4 linked regions of the Homo sapiens genome follow. The protein of the gene in region 4 purifies or fractionates together with the protein of the main gene of each other region. This does not show direct contact. Each region holds a gene or a part of one and is shown on either strand. Other genes may lie near its edges.

The links.
Region 1: the proteins of STRIP2 (region 4) and SIKE1 purify together in Homo sapiens (affinity purification with mass spectrometry; 3 studies listed by BioGRID and IntAct, with this or other methods). This does not show direct contact.
Region 2: the proteins of STRIP2 (region 4) and CTTNBP2NL purify together in Homo sapiens (affinity purification with mass spectrometry; 2 studies listed by BioGRID and IntAct, with this or other methods). This does not show direct contact.
Region 3: the proteins of STRIP2 (region 4) and PPP2CB purify together in Homo sapiens (affinity purification with mass spectrometry; 5 studies listed by BioGRID and IntAct, with this or other methods). This does not show direct contact.

Annotation. Positions count from the first base shown.
Region 1 is NC_000001.11:114,777,684-114,784,868, forward strand, and holds the start of SIKE1 (suppressor of IKBKE 1), read right to left. Parts: upstream 3,003-7,185; 5' UTR 2,925-3,002; coding exon 2,766-2,924; coding exon of another isoform or gene 2,754-2,765; exon of another isoform or gene 2,704-2,753; intron 2,533-2,703; coding exon 2,427-2,532; intron 1,602-2,426; coding exon 1,459-1,601; intron 1-1,458.
Region 2 is NC_000001.11:112,391,724-112,399,213, reverse strand, and holds the start of CTTNBP2NL (CTTNBP2 N-terminal-like protein), read right to left. Parts: upstream 3,001-7,490; 5' UTR 2,942-3,000; exon of another isoform or gene 2,629-2,941; intron 1-2,628. UniProt on the Homo sapiens protein: Regulates lamellipodial actin dynamics in a CTTN-dependent manner. Associates with core striatin-interacting phosphatase and kinase (STRIPAK) complex to form CTTNBP2NL-STRIPAK complexes.
Region 3 is NC_000008.11:30,788,793-30,795,818, forward strand, and holds part of PPP2CB (serine/threonine-protein phosphatase 2A catalytic subunit beta isoform), read right to left. Parts: intron 5,490-7,026; coding exon 5,400-5,489; intron 5,287-5,399; coding exon 5,125-5,286; intron 2,524-5,124; coding exon 2,405-2,523; intron 1-2,404.
Region 4 is NC_000007.14:129,437,410-129,444,435, forward strand, and holds part of STRIP2 (striatin-interacting protein 2), read left to right. Parts: intron 1-2,612; coding exon 2,613-2,682; intron 2,683-6,614; coding exon 6,615-6,689; intron 6,690-7,026. UniProt on the Homo sapiens protein: Plays a role in the regulation of cell morphology and cytoskeletal organization. Required in the control of cell shape. Calmodulin-binding scaffolding protein which is the center of the striatin-interacting phosphatase and kinase (STRIPAK) complexes.

The sequences.
Region 1 (7,185 bases), on a different chromosome or scaffold from region 4:
AACTCTGGTAAGGCCTTAGTCATTTTTGTGGGTGAAATCTGATTCGATGCAAGCAATGTTATTTTCATTTCTGAAAATTATCTATGTCCAGTGCATCAATCCCCCAGTAGGTCCACACTCCAATAAAAAGATTTGAAATGGAAAAAAAAAATCAATTGTAGTTTAACTACCCATTGGATGTTGGATACTATCTCTAAGTGGCTGTTTAACTTAAATTTGAATACTTTTACTGGCAGGAAGCTTACTACATTCCAAGGTGCTTTATTCCATCTTTGGACATATCACTTAGAAAGTTTATCTATCTGAGTAAACTCTGTCTCTTTCAAGGTTCAAGTTTTTTCCTCCATACGAGAAGAAAATCTATTTTTCTCTTCCAGATGAAAGCCATTCAAATATTTAAAATATCTGTTTCCTAAAACTTTTAAGTCAGTAAAATGCATTCAATGGAATTTAAGATGAAGCTTATATTTCACTACATCTCACAGAAGTAGTAGGCTCCAACCCTATACATCTAGAATTAAATGATACAGTACACAAGAATGTACAATGACAACCATGAAGCACCTATAAACATAAGAACAATTACTGAGTCTCCCAAATTAGCAAAGAACAGAAACTATGCCATGTTTGTTTTTTTAAAAAACCATACTTCTCTCCCCTAACAACATAGTATGATACTATGTGGTTCAGTTTATAAAAGGTTTACTGACTGCCTGCTGTATGTCAGGTACTATGTTAGGAATAAAATGTGAATTCATGCGCCTTACAAGCAAGGAGCTTAAGTTAAATGTATAAGTAATAACCAACCAAGTGTTTACCAGGCAGCTTCAACACTAACTGGCATTATGTTTGGTGGGAGCGCTAAGAATTAATGAACATTTTCAAAAGAGATCTTGGTGAGGGAGGGGGAACCTTAGTCCCACTCAAATAAAAGGATCTGAGCAGCCCCTATCCTCCTTCTTTCTATTCATATCTTTACAAAGCCATGGCAAAATAAACAACAAATGTGATAAACATGAAAGGAAAATGAGCTTACTTTTCTTCAAAAACAAGCACACATGGCCAGGCGCAGTGGTTCATGCCTATAATCCCAGCACTTTGGAAGGCTAACGTGGGTGGATCGCTTGAGCCCAGGAGTTTCAGACCAGCCTGGGCAACATGGCGAAATGTCATCTCTACCAAAAAACAAACAAACAAACAAACAAACAAACAACCCCACAAAAATTAACAGGGCGTGGTGGTGTGCACCTGTAGTCCCAGCTGCTCCGGAGGCAGAGGTGAGACGATGGCTTGAGCCCAGGAGGCAGAGGTTGCAGTGAGCCGAGATCGTGCCATTACACCACGGCCTGGTCGACAAGAGCCAGACCCTATCTCACAAAGCAAAAAAACAAGCACACAATCTAAAACAATCTCAAGATTTCAATTTGGTTCATTTCGAATTTATTCAAAGTTTCTTACTGCAGAGTGAGACTGGTGAGCTTTCAGGACTGGTTCAGCATCCACCGCTTTTTTAGCAACCATTAACTGTAACATCTGTTTCCGATATTTGCTCATGATAAGTTCCAAAGCATCCTGGTGTTCCTCCAAGGAAATCCATAGCTCTGTCAAAAAATAAAAGAACTTGGCAGTGATGTCTGAGAGACAGTTCCCAAATCCAAAGTCTTAACAGTTGGAATTTTGTAACACTATATAGATAATATGAATCTAAAGTTGTAAATCAATGTTTAAGTCCGCAAAACTGAACAGTTAAAGTCTATGTGAAAGGTAACTTTCTAGGCAGAGAAGCAAAGTCTTGCAGAAACAACAATGGATGTATCATCAGAAGACATGTGTTTGAGTTCAGTTCTGTAACTTGCTTGGTTAATACTCATAAGTAAATCATTTAGCTTCTTCTGAGCCTATTTCTTAACTGCATTGTGGTAGATAAAAATGAAGATATGAGAATACAGTAGAATGATATATGTGAAACCCCTCTGGTAAACAACTATTAATACCACAATCATTAATAATGTACTAATCAAGCCTAAGAATATATACCCTTAGAATAAAATTCTGCTGCTTCACCTTGCACAAACAAGAACATAAACAAAACCTTAAATCTTACCTTCAGTGTTTATATTAATACTTAAACATTAAATTTTAAGTCCATGAGGCTATGAACTCTTTTGTTACACATCTGAGGATGCTTAAAAATAAACCATGCAATAATACCAACTCTACACAGCACCTCTTTGGTAAGCTGCTGCAATATTAGTCAGATGACCTTGAAAAGGGTAATCTAACAAACTTTATTGTTACTGGGCCAGATCAGGAGGACTCTCCTACTAAAAGTACTGACCTGGAAATATATGTACACTTTTGTAAATGTTTAGGGCAATTTTGCAATAACTTTAAACTATTACCAGATATGAAAAGGCCTGACTAACCTCTGTTTTCCTGTTGCAAGTCTCTAATCTGTGTGTTCTCTTGGGACAGCAGAATGTGAGGTTTGTATTTGGACATGTCCTTCATATCGGATGCATCCTCTTGATACTGGACAAATAGAGACAGACTAAGCATGCCTTAAAGAGAACAGCGGCAGATGCAACTGAAGAGGCAGAAGTTAGGGCTCCAGGGCAGGATTCTCAGCCCCGACCCAGGAAAATGGTCTCACCGCCGCCCTCTGAGACCGGGAATAAATTCCAGGCCGAGTTCCCACTTTACCTCGCTCTCCACCCTTCAGTGCCCAGAATCCGAGAGCACTGGACTCCTACCCTCTGCCTGACCTGGTCCGGAAGCGCTGTCCCCGCCTCCCGCATAGCTGCTACCCGCCGGTGCAGCGCCGCCGACTGATCCACCAGCGACTCGGCGGCCGCATCGTGCTCCCGTAGCCTCTCCAGCAGCGTCTTGGCGTCTGTCAGGATCTTCTCGATGGTGCAGCTCATAGCAGCAGCACCACCCCAGCCCCTGCCGGGCTCAGCTACGCGACTCGCTCAGATCTTCTGGGAGTCTGTCTCAGCATTACAGGCGTCATTTCCGGGCACGTTTACAAGGTGTCTTGGTAGGCGCAATGGGCGCCTGCGCAGTGGCAGCCTATTTTGCGGGTTGACCCGCTTTAACCTGCGGCTTCCTTGCAGTCCTTCCTTGCGCGGAGCCCCAGACCTACACTTGCCACGCCGTTGGTTTCCAGTTACCACAGCCTGGTGGTCAGGCTATGATTAGCTGGGCAGTGGGAAGGTCTCCTTTCCCTACTGGTTTTCATTGATGTGGGTTGTTCTTCAGTCACAGTTAGTTTCTTTTTATTTTCATTATTTTTTTCTTTTTTGAGACGGAATCTTGCTCTTGTCCAGGCTGGAGTGCAGTGGCGCGATCTTGGCTCATTGCAACCTCTGCCTCCAGGGTTCAAGCGATTCTCCTGCCTCAGCCTCTCGAGTAGCTGGGATTACAGGCATGCGCCACCACGCCGGCTGATTTTTCTATTTTTAGTAGAAACGGGGTTTCACATGTTGGCCAGGCCGGTTTCGAACTCCTGACCTCAAGTGATCCGCCCGCCTCGGCCTCCCAAAGTGCTGGGATTACAGGTGTGAGCCCCCGCGCCTGGCCTACTTTCATTTAATTTTTTTTAAATTGTGGCAAAATACACATAAAATTTAATATCTCAGCCATTTATAAGTGTACAGTTCAGTTGTACATTCATATTGTTATACAGCCACCATCAGCATCCATCTCTAGAACTCTTTCATCTTGCAGTACTGAAGTTCTGTACTCATTAAACAATAATTCCTCATTCTTCCTTATCCCCAGCTCCTGGCAGCCACCATTCTACTTTGTGTCTCTACAAATCTGACTATTCTGGGTACCTGACATGAGTGAAATCATACAGCATTTGTATTTATATAACTGCCTTATTTCACTTAGTGTAATGTCCACGAGTTTCATCCATATAGTAGCATATGTTAGAATTTCCTTCCTTTTTAAGGCTGAATAATATATATATACCACGTTTTGTTTATCCATTCATCCGTGGATGGACAGTTGGGTTGCTTCCACCTTTTGCTATTGTCAATAATGCTGCTATTGCAACTGGCTCACGTCTGGCTGCTTGCTGCCTAGAGGCCAAAAACATGAGAAGTGACCTGTGGTGAAAGCTTTACTAATCAAATGCTCGCAGATGGGGAATGGCTAGGCTCATGCCTTCAAAACAGCATTCCACTTTTTTTTTTTTTTTGGTCAAGGTATCCCAGAGACAGTATCAGTGTCCAAACTTTAATTTTGTCCCATATCAATGCCAGGGTGGTGTGCTACCTGCCCTGAGTCCATCATGTCCCTCCTGCGGCCAACTGACTTAGAGTCAAAAGAGTTACAGCCAATTAAACGTTCTAGGTCAGATGGGAAGGAGGTGGGCAGGCACTCATTAACCTTAAAACCCCTCTTAAGCAATGTTAAGAGGCAAAAACCAAAAGGCAAGGGTTACAAAATTGACTTATCTATAAATTCTATGCATTGAGCTGCTGTAATCTTGGCTTGTTGCAATTAGCTATACAAAATGCAAGCATTTTGTTTAGCTGTTTTGGCATCTGTGTCATCCTTGATTTGTAGGGTCTGAACTAATTTTAGCTCTCAATACTGGCCCTTACAACATTACGTTATAGTCTCTAGGCATGGCGGGATTGAAGAGTTTCAACTTTTGTAGGTAAAACAAAACAGAAAGAATTAACAACATTTCAAACACAAAGGTCATAAACCCTGCCTAGTTTTGAGAATAACAGGAAAAGAAGTTCATAGGTAGCTAAACACTTAAATTATTTAGTATCAAGGCACAGAATAAATTATATTAATTCAGATAGAGGCAGAATTGTTAAATGAATCTTAATATTTTTGAACACAAGACTGTCCCTGTGTCTCATGAAAGCAGTTTACTTTGTCGCCTTTGCCTGAGTCTAACGATGAGGCTTTGGTTAATTGCAGTTTAGTGTCAGATACTGGCAGGAGTTGATGCCTTCTTTGGATGAGATATGTGTAAGTCCCTATAACTTAAAAGCACAAGGATTAGTTAATATCACCTGATAAGGACCTTTTCAAGGAGCTGGAGGTGTGATACCGGAGTCTATGACCTGACTGGAAGCTGTAAAAATATTTTACAACCTTGCAGTGATTAATTTTTATAGCTTCGATAAACCCCAGCAATAAGTCAGAGACTTAATTTACGATTTTGATTTTGAGGACATTGGTCAAAGATTTTAAAAGCCTCAAAACATTTGATCAAAACAAGATAATATTCATTGTAAAAATAATAGTTACTCATTTAACCAAACTGATAATTAAAGACTTTAAAGGCAATTGAGAAGGTTACCAGGACATAAAAACCTGAACCCTTTTAAATCTCAGTTTTTCTAGGCAATTAAAAACCCATTAAAGAGAGCATGGGAATTATTTGATAAAACATTAAAATCTTGTTTCTTAAGCAAGTTACTACACAGGCAAAAAACCCCTTCTGCTGTGTGACTGCTTCTCCTTATGGGAAGACCATGTAGGTAACCTGAAAGTCATACTTGAAAAAAGTGCTTGAATTTAATCAGACACAAGAAGAGTGTATTCATGCTTATGAGTATAGCAAGGGAATACATCTCTCTGAGCAATTGCGTGAGAAGTTTCCTGATTACAACGAAAATCACATATCAAGAAAAGCCGGGAGTACAGAATCAAGTTATATTGGAGGAAAACACTGCTTTTATAGACTTCTAAGATAAAACATTTCAGCATCAGGCCCCAACAGTTAGAATCAGAGGAAAAAGAATTAGAGGAGCTGATGGAAAAAGTTGAAGGAGAGTGTCCTTTTCAAAGGGAGGAAAAAACTGAAAACAGCCAGACACAACAAAAGCTGAACTTCTGAGATATGAATCTGAGAAGTTTTAAAAAAAAATAGGTGATAGAATTAAAAAGCAAAATTTCCTTTAATTTCATTAAGAGTAAACCAACACCTTAGGAAAACCTTATTTAAACCTAGGGAATCATTCATTATTTTTATTTTTATTTTACTTTAAGTTCTGGGATACATGTGCAGAACATGTAGGTTTGTTACATAGGTATACATGTGCCATGGTGGTTTGCTGTACCTATCAACCCATCATCTAGGTTTTAAGCCCCACATGCATTAGGTATTTGTCCTAATGCTCTCCCTCCCCCTGCCCCCCACCCCCCAACAGGCCCGGGTGTGAGATGTTCCCCTCCCTTTGTCCATGCGTTCTTATCGTTCAACTCCCACTTATGAGTGAGAACATTTGGTGTTTGGTTTTCTGTTCCTGTGTTAGTTTGCTGAGGGTGATGGTTTCCAGGTTCATCCATGTCCCTGCAAAGGACATGAACTCATTCTTTTTTTTTTTTTTTTCTTTTTGAGACAGAGTTTCACTCTTGTTGTCCAGGCTGGAGTGCAATGGTGCGATCTCGGCACACTGCAACCACTGTCTCCTAGGTTCAAGCGATTCTCCTGCCTCAGCCTCCCAAGTATTTGGGATTACAGGCATGTGCCACCAAGCCTGGCTAATTTTATATTTTTAGTAGAGATGGGGTGTCTCCATGTTAGTCAGGCTTGTCTCAAACTCCCAACCTCAGGTGATCTGCCCGCCTCAGCCTCCCAAAGTCCTAGGATTATAGGCGTGAGCCACTGTGCCCGGCTGAACTCATTCTTTTTTATGGCTCCATAGTATTCCATAGTGTATATATGCCACATTTTCTTTATCCAGTCTATCGTTGATGGGCATTTGGGTTGGTTCCAAATTTTTGCTATTGTAAATAGTGCTGCAATAAACATACGTGTGCATGATTTATAATCCTTTGGAATGATTTATAATCCTTTTGGTATATACCCAGTAATGGGATTGCTGGGTCAGATGGAATTTCTGGTTCTAGATCCTTGAGGAATCGCCATACTGTCTTCCACAATGGTTGAACTAATTTACACTCCCACCAACAGTGTAAAAGCGTTCCTATTTCTTCACATCCTCACCAGCATCTGTTGTTTCCTGAGTTTTTAATGATTGCCATTCTAACTGGCATAAAATGGTATCTGATTGTGGTTTTGATTTGCATTTCTCTAATGACCAGTAATGATGAGGTTTTTTTTATATGTTTGTTGGCCCCATAAATGTCTTCTTTTTTTTTTTTTGAGAGAGAGTCTTGCACTGTCCCCCAGGCTGGAGAGCAGTG
Region 2 (7,490 bases), on a different chromosome or scaffold from region 4:
CTGAGTAGCTAGGATTACAGGTGCATGCCACCACATCCAGCTAATTTTTTACATTTTTGATAAAGACGGGGTTTTATCATGTTGGCCAGGCTGGTCTCGAACTCCTGACCTCGTGATCCACCCGCCTCAGCTTCCCAAAGTGCTGGGTTTACAGATGTGAGCCACCAAGCCTGGCCTCAGAAACTATTCTTGAACAAAAATCAGCAATCAGTCCCTAGTGATCTCTCCTAAATTCACTTCATTCCTATCAGGTCAGATATTTAGAACAATAAAATCCTAAAATGATTAGCACTCATTACGTTCTTAAGTCTGGTTCAAATTTCATGACAGTAAAATAGTATTTTCTAACTAGCAGATTACATATATATTTTTTTAACTTTTTTTTTTTTTTTTTTTGTTAAGAGACAGGGTCTCTTTCTGCTGCCCAGGCTGGAGAGTGCAGTGGCATGATCATAGCTCACTGTAACCTCAAACACCTGGGCTCAAGCAAGCCTCCTGCCTCAGCCTCCCAAGTAGCAAGGATTACAGGGATGAGCCACCACACCCTGCCTCACAGATATTTCTTTATAAGAAATTCAAAATTTTAGTCACTTAAGACACTGGAATTTCATAAGACAGAAGATGGGGAAAATCAAGTTAAATGAAGACAACAAGTAGGCCGTTTATACTAACAAATTGTGCCAAATCTAATCAGTACATTGCCTTTCAGTCTACCCTAAGGTGACAGCCTCAAACTAAGTTAAACAAACACTCATGAAGTCATACTATATACTAGGAACTGTGAAAGATATAAAGATGAAAAACAAAAAATACTACTATCTGCCCTCAAAGAATTTATAATTCAAGGAGAGAGATCAGACATCTATCCTCTGCATACTATGCTTTTCTTCACCTAGCATGACCAAACAGGTGTTGAAAAGGTTAAAGGAAAGATTTTCAAGACCCAAAAGTGTAACAAACAGATCTTGCTTACTGTGCTAAATAATAAAAGAATATTATTTGCTTTTTCCTATTAAACCTCGGCAATCACAACTTTGGTTTGCTTAGTCTCTTACCTTAGTTTATTTTCTGTTCTCTGTTGATATAATACAACTTATCTTTTTGGGATTTTCTGTTCTGCTTTTAGTTTTTTCTGCTGTTATTGCTGGGAGCTCACGTCTTACCCTTCTATTGCAGCACACATTGCGTTTGCTAGAGACACCCTCCAGTTTCTTCTTTGTACTTTCTTACTGGAGATTTGGAAACAATCACTGAGAAGACCTGTGAGCACCGAGTGGCTCTGAAAACTTCAAACCTAACTATTCAAAAGTAATTATCTTTAGGAAGTCTACCTTCAGAAAGTCTAATCAAGAAGGTAAAAGACAACAGTCATTACAATCACCCTCCGTGATTCCAACTCCTTGCATTTTATTGCCATCAGCTTTGGCTATAGCTGACAGAGGGGAGGTAGACTTGAGATTGGAAGCAAAAGAAACTATGCTAAAAACATGGTAAATTTTAATATATAAAAGCGCTAGCAATAGATGATTACTGGGGATTCAACGACATTAACATGAGGTCAAAATCAACACTTTGCACCTGCTGAAATGAAGACCACTTGACAAAACCTTTAGGAGCACACTAGAAGAGGCACTTTTTGGTAAACATGAATAGCTAGAATACCTTGCCTTTATTTACTCTTATCTCTGAGATTTAAAAATTGTTCTTACTTTTCATCCTCTAAATTTTGATAGATGATCGTAAAACCAATCAAAATATACATGAATGTTTCCTGGGGGCGGGGAGGACACTATAAAAAAGGGGTTAGAGAGTTACCAAAGGACATAGGACTAGATTAATCATAAACCTAGATGACTGACCCTGAATTTTCTTCAAACACTTCCTGTCTTTTGTTTCAACCTGCAGTATACCTTCAAGGTTAACTGCAGTCTCCCTGAGCAATGGACCAGCCCACCCTAGACTGGGATATACTCATTCCTAATCCACTGCTACTTATTTACTTATGTATACTGTTTCATTTGAAAACATGGTGTTATTCATTGACTGTCAAGCAACATATACTGCATTCCTGCCCACACAAAGCCAGCTCTGCAGATATCCAACACACCCACCTCACTGTGAAATATAAGATGGCTTTTCATCAAGTTCTCAGGGAGGAAATAGGGTGGAAAAGGAAAAATGAAACGCAATTCAAACCTAAGAAACCCTTAGAGGCTGGGTGCTCCCAGAAGGAACAGAAAGTAGAAGGAAGGTACAAAGGGTGAAGGAGAGGAGGTCCTAGTTCTCCCTCTTTCACAGTCCAAAACAGTCCCAAAACAGGAGAGCTCTCGACTCCTCACAAGAGGCCAGAGGATGCGAGGGGCTGCGGGAGGAAGACTGAGCATCAGAGAATGGGGGATGGGAAGAACTTAAGTGGGAGAAGCCGCTTCCTCCGTAAAGCTGGCTGTCTAGGTCGGTCTTTGATTTTTGCTTCGCCCCATCCCTCCTTTTTGGGAAACACCAATTTTATCTTACGGAGGAAAGCAGCTCCAGTCCCACCCTGGCGAGCAGGGACAGGTGTAGGGAGGGATGTTTGGCCTTCCGGGGGTACGAAATGGGGTTGGGGGCGGCAGCCTAGAGAATCGGTACCTGTGAGTCCTCTCCGCCAAGGCTGAGGTGCGGGGTGGGAGGTGCCTTTGAATGAGGGGTGTCAGAGGGAAGCCCCTTCTGAGGAGCTGGGAATCGACGAGGGACAAAAAGTAGCTGTGAGGACCCTCGGAGGATGAGGAGCCGCCTCCTCGGGGAATACCGGGAGGTGGAGGAGACGGCCCCGCCCCCTCAGGGGATGGGCCCAGAGGCCGTTGAGACGGCGGCGGGAGGCTACCGGTGCCCCTATCCTTGCTTTGCTCTTGAGAACCCGGCCTCCCAGCCATCACCAAGCCCCAGGGATAGTTGCTCCTACCTTTCCACGACGCTCCGGGCTCCGCTCCCCTCCGCCTCCACTCCCCATCCACAGCGGCTGAGGCTCCGCCCCCTCAGCCGCCCGGCGGGGGCATTGGCATTCACCAGCGCCAATCGCCTCCTTGCTTCTCCAGCCTCGGCCCCAATCCGCGCCGGCTGGAGGCGGGGCTTCTCCAAAGTCATTCAGGCTCCTCCCGGGGCCCCAAGATCCCTTTTGTTTGGGAAGAGCAAGGCCGGGATTGAGCTCGCGTCACTTCCGGGAGGAAGCGCCCTCCTGGGTCCTGGGCTTCAGGGTGGGCTCGCGCCCCTCCCGGCTCGGGGTCTGCAACTTTCCACCTCTGCGTGAAAAGTCTGGGCAGGACCGTGACTAGTGCTTCGTGCTTTTACCTGACTGTACGCGGAGTTTAGGAATGGAGGGCTCTGGTGGCCTAATCGATTGGGATTTTATCCAGAATGTTAATAAATGAAGTGGGCTTTGGTGTCTGCATTAGAATGAATTCGTTGTTGAAAAACCTGGCTTCCTTGCTCCCTTTTTTTTTTTCTTTTTTCTGGAAGCGCCTGTGGGCGTGGTGCTGGAAGCAAGGGTGCAAAGATGAAACACCTGGAGATCACCCTTCTCTCAACCACATTTTGTACAGAAGAGGATACTAACTTTGGGGGACATAAACCCAGCCGACCTGCCTTCCAGGCGGAAGTCAAATAATTGCAAATTTGTGTGGCAGGTTTTTCCACCCTATGCTTGCCAGCTGAGGCGACTTTTTTCTTTCCTTGGCCTCATTATATTGTGGGGAATGGTGTTTGCAGTGAAGTTGAAACAATGGAGAGTACAGAGGATGCAAGGAATGTCTGCCTTGTGAACACAGGAATGCAGATCTTGGTGGCAGCAAGTCTTAGGCAGGACCAAATAACTCAGAGAGGGGAGTGGATGTATAACTAGTTGTATCCCTACCTAAGGTCAAAGTTTCTGAATTCCTTTTCCACAGAATGGCTGTCAGCTCACAGATTGATGCAGCTGGTTACATTTACAATAACCACATTATTTAAAATACAATATAATAAATATTTGAGACGAATATTCATAATGCATAAATAATGTAGTACACTTAATACATTATCCCTAAACTTAGCAATTATAATTCGCAAGACAGCATTAGGGACCTAGTGCTTGCCTAGGCAGACAGTCCCCAAGGCAGATGCAGCCTGCCTCATGCAGTTTACAGTCTGACTGAGGGATGTGATCAGTTTGTGCGATTATAGTCTGAAAGAAGTAAACAAGTATTTATCATGTTATCACTGTGCCATGTACTTTCATTTAATGGTATTTGATGTCATTTTCAGTGCTGTATGAGAAATCTATCCTACAGTGTAGGATAGACATCATTGTGTCCAATTTACAGATGAGAAGATAGAGATTCAGAGAAGTCAAATAAAGTCATAGAGCTAGTAAATGGTAAAGAATTTCCAGTAAGGATGTATGACTCCATACTTATGCCATATTCTGCTCACTTCACACTGGCTCTCACATGCTGGACTAAGAATGGGCGTGGATGATGGTAAAGCAAACATTAGAGCCAGAAGGACAGCTCTATGCCTCCCCCTGTTGATTTTAGGCTTGGGAGGGTCATCTCTGTATATGAAGGATAGCAAGACTATGAGTGAAGGTGCTCGATAGCAGTGTAAGTGAATCTGGAGTAATGATGCAGGGTATACTGAACTTCAGAAAGGCATTATGCCTTGTGTTCTGAAAACTGACAATCTGAAAGCTAAAATGAGGGGCCAGGCACAGAGTAGGTACTCAATAAATATTGACTTGAAACAAAATGTCTGAAATGATTACAAATACAGAGTGTTAGGTGCTGGAGCAGGCAAAGGAACTTGAAAAATCCCATTTCCTCCTCCTCCCTTTCGCTCTGCCTATGTGTATGCAATGAGGAAGTGCCTCATCGCCTGACAATGAAGCAGATGTGGGAGAACAAGCTATTTTCTGCTGGCTTCTGAGTCACTCTAAGAGTTGTTCTAGTGAATCAGCTCCTCCCTTGTTTTTCTTTTCTTTTTTTTTTTTTTTTTTATCGAGATGGAGTCTCGCTCTGTCTCCCAGACTGGAGTGCAATGGCGCAATCTCTCACTACAACCTCCGCCTTCTGGGTTCAAGCGATTCTCCTGCCTCAGCTTTCCGAGTAGCTGGGATTATAGGCGCCTGTCACTGTGCCCAGCTAATTTTTATATTTTTAGTAGAGATGGGGTTTTGCCATGTTGGCCAGGCTGGTCTCAAACTCCTGACCTCAGGTGATCCACCTGCTGGCCTCCCAAAGTGGCTGGGATGACAGGCGTAAACCACCATGCCCGGCAGGTCCTCCTTTCTTTCCCTCATTCCCTTTGTAGCTGTTAACCCACCACCACCCATTCTTTTCCCTGGCTGACTGGGTGGGAGCAGTGCTCTGTGACCTACTTCCTTTAGAGCAATGGGCAACTCCCCTGATTTCCTGGCTTCCCTTCTGCGTATTCCTAAATGAGTGTAGAAGGACTCAGCAAAAATGAGAACATCCCTGCCTTGTAGGATTCAGAGTCTTGAGGGTGTTCAGATTGCTTTCCTTTTAATTTTTCACCCCTAGAAGTAGGGAACAGGCAGGGCTTGTGAACCTCGTGTATCTTTCAGATTGTAGCAGTGAGAGAGTTATGGAGGTTTGTGATTCTTCAATACATAAACCTTGTAAATAAATTTAGAGTCTGGTGCATAGGTGTACGCAGAGGTAAAAAATGGTTCATAACAATATCTTAGATTTGTATAACAAAATATAACATTTTAATGTCTATCATTTTATCAACTGGACAGTAAAATATTTATTAAATGCCTATTGTGTCAGGCAACAACTTAAAGTGCTTAAAAATTATAGATTGTGTCAATTTTTTTCCAAATAAGTAAATTTCCATAAATGTTTATTGCTGGTTTGGGGAGGCAGCAATGGAGTAAAAGAGGTCTAGGCTAGAGGTTAAAAAATCTGGAGTCTAGTTCTTATTCTGTCATCAACTATAGTAGTTTCTATCTGGGCAGCTTAAAACAACAGAAATGTGTTCTGTCTCAGTTCTTGAGGCTAGAAGTACAAAATCAGGGTGTTGGACGAGTGCAGTGGCTCACTCCTGTAATCCTAGCACTTTGGGAGGCTGAGGTGGGTGGATCACCTGAGGTCAGGAGTTCTAGACCAGCCTGGCCAACATGGTGAAACCCCGTCTCTACTAACAATACAAAAATTAGCTGGGCATGGTGGCGGGTGCCTGTAATCCCAGCTACTTGGAAGACTGAGGCAGGAGAATCGCTTGAACCCAGGAGATGGAGGTTGCAGTGAGCCGAGATCGCGCCACTGCACTCCACCCTGGGCAACAAAGAGCGAAACTCTGTCTCAAAAAAACAAACAAACAAAAAAAAATCAGGGTGTTGACAAGGTTGGCTCCTTCTGGGGGCTCTGAGAGATGCTCCATCCCATGCCTCTCTCCCCTGGCTTCTGGTGGTTCCCAGTGATCATTGGCGTGTAACTACATCATCCCAATACCTGCCTCCGTCTTCACATGGCCTTCTCTCTATGTCTCAGCGTCTCTGTATGTCCTCTCCTCTTCTTATAAAGGCCCCACTCATGTTGTACTTAGAGCCTACTCTATTCCACCATGACCTCATCTGAACTCATGACATCTGCAAAGACCCTATTTCTAAATAAATTCACAGTCTGAGATGGGTGCACATGAATTTTGGGGGGACATCATTCGACCCGATACACAAACCTACTTGGCAAAGTAACCTTCTCACTTAACTCCATTTAAGTTCATTGATAAAAGGCATGAAAGTAGTGGAATAATTCCTAAAGATCATTTCAGCCTATGATTTAATATAATGATATATGCTAGATACATTAATCAAGCTATCAAATTATGTGCTAAGCATTATGCAATTTTTTATATGACATCTCATTTCACCCTTAAAAGAATTCCACGAGATAGATATTAACAGTCCCCTTTTGCAGGTGAGGAAATTGAGGCACAAAGAGGTCCAAAGTCATGGAATTCATAAGTGATGAACACAGAATATTTACTTAGATCTGATTCCAAAGTGCACTCTCAAAATTACTATGCTCTATCATCTCTCCATCATGCTAAGTGGGTTAGGAAGATGGGGAATGCAACAAATATTTTCAATTTTGATTTATAGAATATTTGGAGCTGAGTAGCAATTTCCTGGAATTATGTGTAAAGTTTGGACTTATTTTATTTATTTATTTATTTATTTATTTATTGAGACAGGGTCTCACTCTGTTGCCCAGACTGGAGTGCAGCGGCCCAATCTCTGCTCACCGCAACCTCTGCCTCCCAGGCTCAAGCTATTCTCCGGTCTCAGCCTCCCAAGTAGCTGGGATTACAGGCGCGCACCACTACTGCCGGCTAATTTTTTATATTTTCAGTAGAGGCAGGGTTTCACTATGTTGGCCAGGCTGGTCTCGAAATCCTGACCTCAAATGACCCACTTGCCTCGGCCTCCCAAAGTGTTGGGATTACAGGAGCCA
Region 3 (7,026 bases), on a different chromosome or scaffold from region 4:
AGAAACAGTTTCTGTTGCTTAGTTTTTTCCTGTGTAGAGGTCACACTTCCTTGTTCTTTCCATGTCTTATAATCTGTGGTTGAAAAATTGGACATTATAGATAACATATTGCAGTAGCTCTGGAATTCATGTCCTTGGGGACTGATCTTGTCTTTTTGGTGGTTTATTATTTTTGTTTAGTGACTTAGCTGAACTAACTGTAAAGTCTACTTCCCCCATAGTGTGCAGCCCCTGTGGCCCTGCTCGGATGTTTTTACTTTTTTTTTTTTTTTTTGAGTTTCACTTTTGTTGCCCAGGCTGGACTGCAATGGCGTGATCGCCGCCGCCTCCCAGGTTCAAGCGATTCTCCTGCCTCAGCCTCCTGAGTAGCTGGGATTACAGGCATGCGCCACCACACCCAACTAATTTTGTATTTTTAATAGAGACTGGGTTTCTCCATGTTGGTCAGGCTGGTCTTGAACTCCCGACCTCAGGTGATCCGCCCACCTCGGCTTCCCAAAGTGCTGGGATTACAGGCATGAGCCACCGTGCCTGACCGTTTTTACTTCTTTTAATCTTTCACAGCCTGGCTACTGAGGGGCTGTCTCTGGGTAGGCATAAGCCACTTACTGATCAAAGATTGTACTTAAGCCCCCTTGGCCAGTTAGATCTTAAAGCTCACCCTAATGGCCACCGGAAATGTTATGTGACTTGCAGATTGCTATCAAAGCTGAAGGAGTTTATATTTTGGCTTCCCATTCAGCCAGGGACTAATAGTTGGATCTTCATACTGCACTCAGTCCAGAGAGGGTATAACCTTGGGCATGCACATATTCTGCCAGACTGTCAGGGATGAGTGTGATTTTATTTTAAAGCCTGACTACCTAGGAGGTGCTCCTGGATCAGAGTAACTGAATGTCGTTCAGTCAATGATGAGAGGTTGTGTTTAAGCCTCACATACTAGTGATGGTTACACCATTTGTTGATCAATCTACTTATCCATTTCCTGGGGCTGCCGTAACAAATTACCGAACTGTATAGCTTATACAACGGGGATTTATCCTCTCACAGTTCTGGAGGCTACAAGTCTGAAAGCAAGATGCTGGGAGGACCACGCTCTCTCTGAAGGCTCTAGGAAAAATCCTTCCTAGCCTCTCCCTAGCTTCTGATGGCTCTGGCAATCCTTAGCTGGTAGATGCATCACTTGAATCTCTGGCTTCACACAGCATTCTCCCCTGTGTGTGTTTCTTTTCCTCTTACTAAAATCCCATTCGAATTGGATTTAGGCCCACCCTAATCCAGTACAATCTCATCTTTAATAATTATATCTGTAAAGATCCTATTTCCAAATAACATCACATTTTGAGGTTCTGGGTGGACATGAATTTTTTTGGGGGGACATTATTCAACTCAGTACAATCTATGTGTGGCTTGAAAATATTATATGAATACCCCACATCCTACTCTTGACTGCTCCTGAGTGGGTATGGCTAGTGCATGTGCACAGCCTTCTTGTCCCCCAGGGCTGACTGTGATCCCAGAAGGGCTCTTCTTGGCTTTTTCCCTGGTGCTATTTGTTGAACAACATGTTGCTCTGCTCTTTTGTATGTTGCTCCTAGTATCATGGGAGCTATTACAGCCCTCTTAATTGGTCTCCACCATGACATCTACTGCTTTCCACAAAGCACTCAGATTTGGAATTCTCCATCACCTAAGTAAGATAAGTCCTCTGAGGCAGAGCTGAGGAACTTCTGTGACCTGCCTTTCCTCCTGAGCAGAACTTCTGTGCCAGTGCAGGCTCAGTGATACCACCTGGTTTATAAGCAGGTGCTGGGGTAACAGCATTGGGAAACCCAGCATTCTCATCTGCCATGCATGCCTGGAGCAGAGCTTCTGCCCCAGGAGCTGGGGCAGGGAAGGGGGCCTCAGCCTGCTTGACTGTGTCTACCAGGAGTAGAGCTTTTGTAACTCCAGACTAGGAGAGGTGAGATATGCTGGCATCTGATCTCTGGGAGTGAACCCACAGCCCCAGCCCTGGGAGCTGATGAAGAGGGGGAATCCCTTAGCCTCCTGACTATACCAACCCAGCGTAGAGCGCCTGTAGTCGTTTCTGTGAGAGGGATCTGGGAGGAGTTGGAGGGGGCAAGTCATAGCTCAAATGCCACAGACTACGGCTATTATTACTGAGATTTAGTAGGTTTTCTTGAATTAACTGTTTCTCCACCTGCTGTATGCCCTTAGGACAATTTCCAAAAGCTTTGAAAAATTATTTTTTAAAAATAATGTTCTCCAGCTAATGGTTATTTTTGCTGGAGAGGGGCTTTGCTATACTCCTCATCCAATTTCAGAAACAGAAATCTTCTATTTTTAACATTTAAAATTTTCCTTCTGAAAGTATATACAATTAAAATTTACAGTTACTCACAAGGAATATTTTAAAGTGTCATCTAATTCCATGATAGCAGCCTGGTTCCCACAACGATAACAGTAATTGGGTGCACTGAAAATGGTAACCACATTCCGATCATGACACCAATTGTATCCCTGCAGGATAAAAACAAATTCATTATTTCATTATAATATTATGATTTTGACACAGACACATTTAAAAAAAACTAAACTCAAAAACTACAGGTACTCTCTGTGGAAATGTAGTCGTCTATATTACTATATAAGGTCTCCATCTTTAATAGTTTGTGTACCTGTAAAGAATACTGTGCAATTCGTGGGCCTAGGAGTCTGTTAAATGCAGCTCGCTAATTGTTGTTTTGCCGTATCTATGCTTGAAATCTTGGCAAGGATGTGTACTGAATTTCTCCCACAATCATAATTAATTTCTCAATTTTCCCTCATGAATTATGCCAATTTTTTCTTTATATATTTTGAAGCTATTACTAGGTAAATACAAATTTAGAATACTTTCTTCCTAGAGAACTGGGCCAGTTTTCATCAATAATCTCTTTATTTCTAATAATACCTTTTATTAGAGCCTATCTCATTCATATTATTAGCTATAGTATTATATATAGTGTGTATACATACATGCTAATTAATGTATGTGTATATACATATGTATATATACGTGTATATATGTATATATGTGTGTGCATATATGTATACATGTGTATATACATGTGTATATACATACACGTATATATGTATGTATACATGTATGTGTGCGCATATATGTATACGTGTGTATATGTGTATATATACGTGTGCATATATGTATACACACATACATGTGTGTATATATGTATACATATATATACATACATTAGTGTATGTATGTGTGTATATACACACACACACACATCCTGTGTTGCCCAGGCTGGAGTGCAGTGGTGCGATCTAGACTCACTGCAACCTCCAACTCCTGGGTTCAAGCAATTCTCCTGCCTCAGCCCCGAGTAGTTGGGACTACAGGTGCGTGCCACCACACCAGGTTAATTTTTTGTATTTTAGTAGAGACAGGATCTCACCATGTTGCCCAGGCTGGTCTCGAACTCCTGAGCTCCAGCAATCCGCTTGCCTCAGCCTCCCAAAGTGCTGGGAATAGAGGCACGAGCCACCACGCCAGCTCATTAGCTATATTTTTGATATTTTGATTAATTACTTGATATACCAATATACCATTTTCCAACTCTTACCTCTAGTTTGTGGTGTCTTTTTCTTTTTCCTCGTTTTTTTGAGACAAGGTCTCACCCTTTTGCCCAGGCTGGAGTGCAGCGGTACGATCATAGCTCACTGCAGCCTCAACCTCCTGGCCTCAAGTGACCCTCTCACCTCAGCCTCCTGAGTAGCTGGGACAATAGACATATGCCACCATGCCCAGCTAACTTTTTGACTTTTTTTTTTTTTTTATATAGAGATGAGGTCTCACTATGTTGCCCAGGCTGGTCTGAAACTCCAAGACTCAAGAGATCCTCCCACCTCGGCCTCCCAAAGTGCTGGGATTATAGGCATGAGCCACTTTGTCCAGCCAATCATTTATGTTTTAGGTACATCCCAAATAACAGCTAAATTTTGATTATTTATCCAATCTAAGAGTCTCTTTCAGGCTAAAATTTTAGTCTCTTTCTTATAATCACTGATATAATTAAATTTATTTTTACTATGTAAATTTGTGTTTTTTTTATCATGCTCCCTTGTTTCTACTGGGCTGGCGAAGTTTTCTCTAAACATCTTGAAGCCACTCCCTACTGGTCTGCAGGGATTATGTTGTTTATGTTCCCTTAGTAGTTGTATAACAGTTAATATTATAGTGGAGAAATCTGGCAGACATCATCTTAACTAAGCAATTAAAGTTGCCACCACCAGCATTGAGACAAGCAGATTTTAGGACCACTTGATACAATGCACGGAGGAGGACACACCATCTTTCTATGTCATGACTGCCAAAAATGCATACATTGAATCCCTAACTGCAAGGAAAACATCAGGCAAACCCCAACTGAGGGATATTTCTGTAAGATAAAATGCTCCTACTCTTCCAAAATGTCAAGAATGTGGAAAACAATGAAAATCGGAGGATTTCCACATCAAAGTAGAATGAATACAACCTAATCTTTGGATTCGACTATGCACATACAGTATGCACAAAAAATTAAATTTTGCTATTAAAGACATTAGTGAGACAATTAGCAAAATTTGAATAAAGTGTTCATATTAAATAACAGTACTATATGAACACAAATTTCCCAACTGTGATAACTATACGGTGGTTATGTGACAGTGTGTCCTTAATTTTACAAAATACACATAGAAAGTTGGTAGTAAAGGAGTATCTGTCTGCAACAGATATTCAAATGGTTCAGAAGAAAGTGTGAGGGGTGAAGAGGAAGAGAGACACAAAATGATAAAGCAAATATAGTAAAATATTTACAGTCAGGAATCTGAATGAAGCATACAGGGAATTATGGGGTACTATTTTTGTAACTTTTTTCTAAGTCTCAATTTCAAAAATGAGTTATAATTCTGCTCTGGTCTACTAGTGCTTTCCCTACTTGCTAAAACCAGCAAGTTTTTCCTCTTTTCACCTAGGTAATAAATGGTGAGGAATGTTTCTTAGTTAAGTCATAATGCCTTATTACAGAAGTATATACTAATCTGAAATAAAGATCATTCTGTCAGGAAAGTACATACCTCCATTACAAGCTGGTGGGCACGAGAAACCAGTGTGAGACCATTGGCATGGTTAAAGGTTTCAGAAATGTCTTGTCCAAATGTGTAGCCAGCACCACGTGGTGAAATACCCCATCCACCACGATCATCTGGATCTGACCATAACAGATCACACATTGGGCCCTGGCCAAGAAAAATAAGTACATGTTACAAATTATTATCAGTCATACTTTATCATCCTCAAAATGTGGTTATATTTTCTTTTCCTTTCTTCTTCTTTTTTAAATTAAGTTTACCTCATGTGGAACTTCCTGTAAACGATCCAGGGCTCTTATATGATCCAGTGTGTCTATGGATGGAGAGAGGCCACCATGGAGGCAGAATATCTATGTATGAATTAACAAAAGAGAATGTATTTGTTTTACTAACTCCAAACAGTTAACAAAGAGTAAATAATGGTTAAAAGTGTCAGTCCAAATAGTGCCAACATTTAAACATATTTTGTCCATCATTTTTTCTTCTTTACCCCTTCTCTGGTCAATGGTATCCCCATCCTTGGGGACCCACCATTAAATTTCTTTTTTTTTTTTTCCCCTCCCTCCCTCCCTTCCTTTTCTCTGGTCAATGGTATCCCCATCCTTGGTACCTACCATTAAATTTCTTTCTTTCTTTTTTTTCTCCCTCCCCACTTCCCTCCTTTCTTTTCTTTCTGTAGAGATGGAGTCTTGCTGTGCTGCTGAGGATGGAGAGCAGTAGCTATTCACAGCCTTGATCACTGCGCAATGCAGCCATGAACTCCTGGGCCCAAGCAATCCTCCTGCCTCAGCCTCCTGGGAAGCTAGGATTACAGGTGCATGCCACTGTACCCAGCTGTCATTACAGCTTCTGTTGGTTATTGCTGATATATACAATTTTTTGTTTCTCTTACAGCAAACACTCTGATTCCTGTTACTGGCTACAATAAATTTTCAGTTCCTTCATATTTTCTAAGTACATAATCAAGTCATTTGCAAAACTATTTTTGTTTTTTCTTCTCAATGTTTATACGTTTTAATTCTTTTTATTGCTTAGTGCATTGGCCAGGACTTCTAAAATAAAATGGAATAATACAAATGTTTTCTGTTTTGTTTTTTGTAAACTACCTAGTTTCAAGTCCATGCTCTAGGTATTCTGAATCAGAGAGAATAACGTAAGTTTTAACAAGCATTTTCTTTCTGATTTTGATTTTTTTTTTTTTTTTTTTTGAGACGGAGTTTCGCTCTTGTTGCCCAGTGCAATGGCGTGATCTCGGCTCACCGCAACCTCCGCCTTCCGGGTTCAAGCAATTCTCCTGCCTGAGCCTCCTGAGTAGCTGGGTTTACAGACATGTGCCACCATGCCTGGCTAATTTTGTATTTTTAGTAGAGACAGGGTTTCTCCATGTTGGCCAGGCTGGTCTTGAACTCCCAACCTCAGGTGATCCGCCCGCCTTGGCCTCCCAAAGTGCTGGGATTACAGGCATGAGCCACCTCACCTGGCCTGATGAGAAGGTTTCTAATGTTTAGCTGATAGTACAACTGGCGTTTCTTTATCCACTTAATATTATTATTTTATAAAATAACTGAGTTTTGAATCATAAATATAGGAATTTTTTTTCCAAATGACTTTGGTCTGATTTTATTTTTCTGTGCGTGCCACGTCTGGTTTGGCATTGAGGTTATACTAGGCATACGGTGTGAGTTTTGAACTCTCCATCTTTTCCCAAGTTCTAGAACACAGAAATTATATGTTCCTTAAAGGTTTGGTAGAATTAGCCTATAAAACTATTTACACCTGGTTGCTATTGGTTGTTTACTTATATTGGACGAATTTCTGCAAGCCAATTTTAATAACTGGTATTTTACTATAGTAAGCTTCATTCAGCTTTTCAAACTTAGTGCACTA
Region 4 (7,026 bases):
CCTGGGTGAGAGGAAGACCCTGTCTTAAAAAAAAAAAGAAAAGAAAGAGAATAATAGAAAATATCACTGCATCACATGCAGTAAAGGTAAATATTTTGTTAAACTTTTGTTCCAGTTTGTGTGTGTGTGTGTGTGTGCTGGGACGTAATGTAAAAGGTATCATTTTTCCAAAAAGTTTGAAAAACAATTTTTAATGGCTGTTCTTTATTCTGAGATTCTGTCTTTCATTTTTTGAATTTTTTAAAGTTTTTAAAGTCCTTACCTATCAGAATAAAACAGCAACAACCCTATGTCATTTGCCACTCTCCACCTTTTTCTTTTTCCCTACTGTTCCTTTTAATCCAAAAGTTTGGAAATCTTTGCTATAGTGGATTAAAACATGATTCGCCTTGTTTTTTTTTGTTTTTTTTTTTTTTGACAGAGTCTCACTCTGTCACCCAGGCTGGAGTGCAGTGGCGCAAACTCGGCTCACTGCAAGCTCTGCCTCCCGGGTTCACGCCATTCTCCTGCCTCAGCCTCCCGAGTAGCTGGGACTACAGGCGTCCGCCACCATGCTCGGCTAATTTTTTGTATTTTTAGTGGAGACGGGGTTTCACCGTGTTAGCCAGGATGGTCTCGATCTCCTGACCTCGTAATCCGCCCACCTCGGCCTCCCAAAGTGTTGGGATTACAGGCGTGAGCCACTGCGCCCGGCCAATTTGCTTTGTTGACAGTATAAATTGGCATAATGTTTTGGGGGAGCAACTTATATACAAAGAGACTTTAAAATGTTCATAAGATTTGATTCATTAATTTTCTTTATAAAAATCTATGCTTAGGAAATATCCTAAATATAGAAAAAAGTGTAAGTCTATTACAGTTTGTTGCATATAATAAAGGAAAATTAAAAACCATTTAAATATTCAATAAGGAACTAGTTAAGTAAACAAATAAATGTACATCCATTTATACAACCATTTAAACTAATAGTCATAATAATGTGAGAAGAATGCCTTTATAGTATAATATTAAAATCATAGAGTGACCACTCACATAGTGCTACGAAGTGCTAGGCCGTGTGCCTTTCCTATATTAACTCATTTAGTCCTTAAAATAACCCTATGAAGTAAGTCCTGTTATTATCCTCATTTTACAGATGGGAAAACTGAGCAGGTCATTTTCCAACAATTCGCTGACACCAACTGGATGTCCTACAGTTCAATTCGATTCTGACACTAACTACCTAGAATTAGCACAGACCCCCAAGTTAAGGGCTCAGTCCTACAAGGCCCTACGTTAGACACCAGCCATAGGTGGGATCCCCAAGCTATCTACACTTCAGCCTGGCCAACTACAAATTAAGCGGTTATCATGATCTTCCTTTCAGGTTCCATAATTTGCTAGAATAACTCACAGGATTCAGGAAAGCATGTACTTAGAATTATAATTTTATTATAAAGGATATGACTCAGAAACAGCTAAATGGAAGAGATGCGAAGGACGAAGTATGGGTTTGGGGTGATGCAGAGTTTCCTTATCTTCCCTGGGCAGCACTCTCCTAGCACATCTGTTTGTTCCCCAACCCAAAAGCTGCCTGAACCTAGTTGTTTCTGGGTTTTCCTATGGTGTTTCATTACCTAGACATAATTAAACTATTGGCCACATGACTGAACTTAATCTGTAGTACCCCTCCCCTCCCTGGATGTGGGGGTGGTGCTGAAAGTTAAACCCTCTAATCATGTGCTCCGTCTTTCCTAACATAAGTCACCTCATGAGCATAAATTCTGGTAAAGCTGACAGTGACTCATTATGAATAACTGACACTCCTATCACTCAGGAACTTCTAAGAGTTTCAGGAGCTCTGTACCAGGAACCAGGGGCAAAGAACAGTATATTTTTTATGTCACGCTGAGGCACAGAGAGGTTAACTTGTCCAAGATCAAATAGTATGTGACAGAGCTGAGATTGAAAATTTTAAAAATTCATATGTATGAACATATACAGGAAGGAAATATCCCAAAATGTTTAAGTTAGAAGATGGGATTATATTAAAACATATTTACTAGGATTATAAATTTATACATACAACGTCATGGGAAATGTAATCTTTACTACAACTTGGAGTGGAGATGTTGCATCATTTGACAATCCTAAAGTTGCAGAATATTAGAGCTAAAGAACCTCTTTAAAAATAAGGAACTATGATCCACAGCATGAGACTTGATCTATATCATACAGTGGGTTGATGACAGAACTGAAGCTAGAATCCAGTTCTCTTTGTTTCTGTCTGTCTCAATTTTATATAAATCAGCTAGATGCTCCTCTGGTCTGTGTTCATGTAGATTAGATATGGACACAGACCATAGCTTTCATATATGTTTGAGATCCTGGCCCTTTATTCAGACTTTCCGATTTTGTATAGGAATCCTCAGCCCCTCCCCACACTGAGACTCAAGTTTTGGCTTGGCGTAGGGTACCTCTGAGATGAAAGACCCAAATAGGACTCTCCTAACTGTCTCCCTGATCTAACCTTGGCCTCCATGAGGGGAAGAAGATAAATAAGGGTACAGTCTTCCCTTGGCAACCCCTTTTTCCAAGTTATCCCAGTTACCAACAAAATTTCTCTGTTACAGGGCTCTGTGGACTGTCCCACTCTGGAGTTTGAGTATGGAGATGCAGATGGGCATGCAGCCGAGTTGTCAGGTATGAGGTAGATGGGTCAGTAGCTAGTGGAAGAATGGCCAGGAGGAGAGGGAAGGGGCCTGTGATCTCCCTGGAAGCTTGTCTGTTCTCACCAAGTGGCTGTTGAACAAAGGCTGTTCTCCACATTCCTTTTCCTCTCCATCCAAGTGGTAAATATCTCTTTGTTTGTCTTCACATTTCCTTCTGTGATTCTCCTTGGCTATGGTATTCTTCATTCTGTCATTCTATCACTCTTTCCTGCTCACTCTTCTTTATTCTCTTTGAAAATAACTGATTTGGTGCACTCTCAAATCAGTTTTCTCTCCATCTTCTCCATATTCCTTCTCTTTTTCTCTTCCTGTCACCCATATCTTTGCCTGCCTACTTCTTTCTGCTGCCCTCTTTCTATCCCATGCCATCTCTTTTTCCTTTGTCTCCTCTACCTCCATCTTTTCCTTCTTCCTCTCGCAACTGCCCCTTATTAAAATCTCAGCAAAGTCCGAGGAAAAACTATAGTCAACTGGCCAGCTGAGCAAGGCTGGACATGTCACCTGCATCCATCATAGTAGAGTTCTGCTTGGATGTTTATGAGCTGGGGTTAAGTAATTCCATTCTTCTTTCAGTGCTGGCCTGCTTGTCTCTGTCTGGATTTTTAGCTTAGGGTAAATGTGATCTCCTCACATTAAGGGCCTCCATGTTACATGTGCTATGAATGCCAGTTATTAATAAACAAGCTTTGGGTGGAGATGTGTGAAATTTAAATATTCTGTCACATGGAAGTGATACTTTGAGGCATGCTTTTTCAGAGAAAAGAGACAAACAATTTTAAAGACGTTCTTGTGCATGAGCACAGAGAATAAATTTTGTGATGAGTGACAGAGAAATAGAGAGCTAAGTTTAATAACCAACAAAGGATTAGAATTCATAATAGGAATATGATATAAATATATATATATTTTAAAGAGAGGAGAGAGATGAGCAACCCAACAAAGAAATGGGCAAAGAATATAAATGGGAATTTATAGAAGAAAAAGCCAAATGGTCAATAAATATATGAGAAGATATTGAACTTTATTAGTATATGGGGAAAAGCAAATTAAAATAATAAAATATTATTTCACAATCATCAGAGTGCAAAACTTAAAAGCCTGGGGTTGGTGAGGGTGCAGAGAAATTAGTACTTTTATGCACTGCTAGACATGGGGGGAGCAGAGTATAAAATTGAAAAGCATTTTGCTTATATCTTGCAAAGTTGAAGATGTGCACATATTGTGACCCAACAAGTCTACTCCTAGATATCCACTCTAAAGAAAATTACACTTGGGCACAAGAAAATGTACAAAGATGTTTATTGCAGCCTTGTTTATCAGTGTAAAAAGTTGGAAACAACCTACAATGCTCATCAGTAGGGAAATGGATAAACTATAGCATATTAGTGCAGTAGGCTATTGAATAGCCATTAAAATAATAATTGATCTAAATCAATATATTTATTTTTTATTTTTTTATTTTTGAGACAGAGTCTGGCTCTGTTGCTTACGCTTGAGTGGCACACTCTCAGCTCACTACAGCCTTGAGCTCCTGGGCTCAAGTGATCCTCCCACCCCAGCCTCTCAAGTAGCTATGCCTATGGTCATAGGCATGCCCTACCATGCCCAGCTAATTTTGTGCCACCATGTCCAGCTAATTTTGTGCCACCATGTCCAGCTAATTTTGTTTATCTTTTGTAGAAACAGAGTCTCACCATGTTGCCAAGGCTGGTCCTGAACTCCTGGGCTCAAGTGATCCTCCTGCCTTGGCCCTCCAAAGTGCTGGGACTACAGGTGTGAGCCACCACACCTGGCCTCAACATGTTTCAGTATCAATAAATGCTTGGCCAGGTACGGTAGCTCACATCTTGTAATCCCAGCACTTTGGGAGGCCGAAGTGGGTAGATCACCTGTCAGGAGTTCGAGACCAGCCTGACCAATATGGTGAAACCTTGTCTCTAGTAAAAATACAAAAATTAGCTGGGCATCGTGGCATGCACCTGTAGTCCCAGCTACTGGGGAGGCTGAGACAGGAGAATTGCCTGAACCTGGGAGGCAGAGGTTGCAGTGAGCCAAGATCACGCCACTGCACTCCAGCCTGGGTGACAAAGTGAGACTCCATCTCAAATAATAATAATAATAATAAATGCTAAAGATAAAATTGGGACAAAGGATCAGTAACAAAGGAATTTATACAATAGGATACTGCTTGGATAAAAAAGTTTTTAAACAGAGCAATATCATATGTTTACAGGCATATGTGCATATAGCAAAAGTAGAAAAATAGGCTTGTGAAGGATACACACCAATTTCATTATAGCAGTTGCCTCTGGAGAAGGGAATAAGATAGACTGGGGAGCAGTCTGAAGCAAATATAACAAATGCTAACATTTGTTTGACCTGGGTAGAAGATAATACACAGGTGTCTTAAATGTACTATTCTGTTCTTACCTGTATATAAAAATTCATAATCTAAAATTTAAAAATAAAAAGACCAAGACTAAAGTTCAGTACCTAAGAGCCTTGCCCACTTTTCTGATTTGGTTTTTGGTGCTTTAATCTTAAAAATATATATATTCACCTCTCCACTAATGACTGAAGAATTTAAGATTCAGTGATGGGATTTGCTTCTGGTCACTCCTAGATTCTGGAACTTAAGACTCAAAAGCCCTGACTCCCAGACAAGGTGTTTCTCAACCATTAGACAGCTGGCTGGAACATAAGTGAATTTCTCTTGCTTTGTGAATTACCTGTGACCTGGTTAAATTTCCAGGAAGGGTCTCAGGTAGGGAGCAGAGATTTAAAGGAAATCTGTTCTATCATCTGTTGACTTCTGTATTTCAGTTCTTCATCTTCTGTAAGATGAGGGTACATATACAATGTTCTGGAGAGAGATAGAGAGAGTAGGAAAGGGCATTTTTATTTCTTTTCTTCTTTCTTTCTTTTTTTTTTTTTTAAGAGACAGAGTCTTATTCTGTTACCCCAGGCTGGAGTGCAGTGACATGATCATAGCTCACTAAAGCCTCAAACTCCTAAGCTCAAACGATCCTCCACCTCAGCCTCCTAAGTAGCTAGGACTACAGTCATGTGCCACTACACCTGGCTAATGTTTAAATTTTTTGTAGAGATAGGGTCATGCTATGTTGCCCAGGCTAGACTCAAACTCCTGGCCTCAAGCAATTCTCCTGCCTCAGCCTCTCAAAGTGCTGGGATTACAATCCTATAGGTCTGAGCCATCACACGTGGCTGGCATTTTTATTTCTCATAAGCTTTTTGCATTTTGTATTGAGAGGCTGCTGTTAGCAAAGTTAGATTTTCCTGGGCACAGCAGCCCTTTGACAACCATAGCTGTTCTCTAGAGTTTTTTTTGCAGCCTCTGCTTTGTGGCTGTGGGCAGGAATCTAAACTTCTATACCCTTTGAGGAAACTTAGCAGGGAGAGAATGAACTGGTTCCAACCCTGAAGAACCATCTAGCACTTACTTTTCAGCCCTTGCCATGGTTTCCTGATCCAGCACAAGGATCTTTCCTCTAAGTTTCAGGAGTTGTGTTGCCCTCCTCTTCTCTTAGAGATGGGATAGTTCCTGGTTGGGTTGACAAAGCAGGAGTTGCAGCCCTGAGAAACAGGAGTGATGAGATTAAGCTCTCTGTGCTGCAGTCCTCCTCTTGGCCCTCACCAAATGTTGAAGGCTGCCTTCTCTGCTGCAGCAGCCAGCTGGCAGGAAGAGGACAGGTTTGATGGTTTAATCTCCCAGGGACACAAGTGGCTATTTTTAACGTTGCTCTGAAAAGGAGGAAGCTAGCTTTGGATTCATTGGACACAGGAATGTGTTGGAAGCTTCAGCTCTTTCATGCCACCCTCTCTACTTTGGGCCTCTTCTTTAAGGATCTCCCGAATGTGACTGTTCTGTCTTTCCTGCCACAGAATTGTATAGTTACACTGAGAACCTGGAATTCACCAATAACAGGAGGTGCTTTGAAGAAGATTTCAAGACTCAAGGTAATTCCAGATCTTTACTCATAGAGACCTGCTTTTTCCTTTTATGATATACCAGCCTGATCTAGTAAAAGACTAAAACAAAGTGCGATCCTTCATCCCCTCTGTATTAGTTAGGGTTCTCTTAGAGGGATAGAACTAATATGATAAATAGATAGATATATATAAAGGGGAGTTTATTAAGTATTAACTTACACAATCACAAGGTCCCATAATAGGCTGTCTGCAAGCTGAGGAGCAAGGAGAGCCAGTCTGAGTCCCAAAACTGAAGAACTTGGAGTCCGATATTCGAGGGCAGGAACTATCCAGCACAGGAGAAAGATGTAGGCTGAAAGGCTAG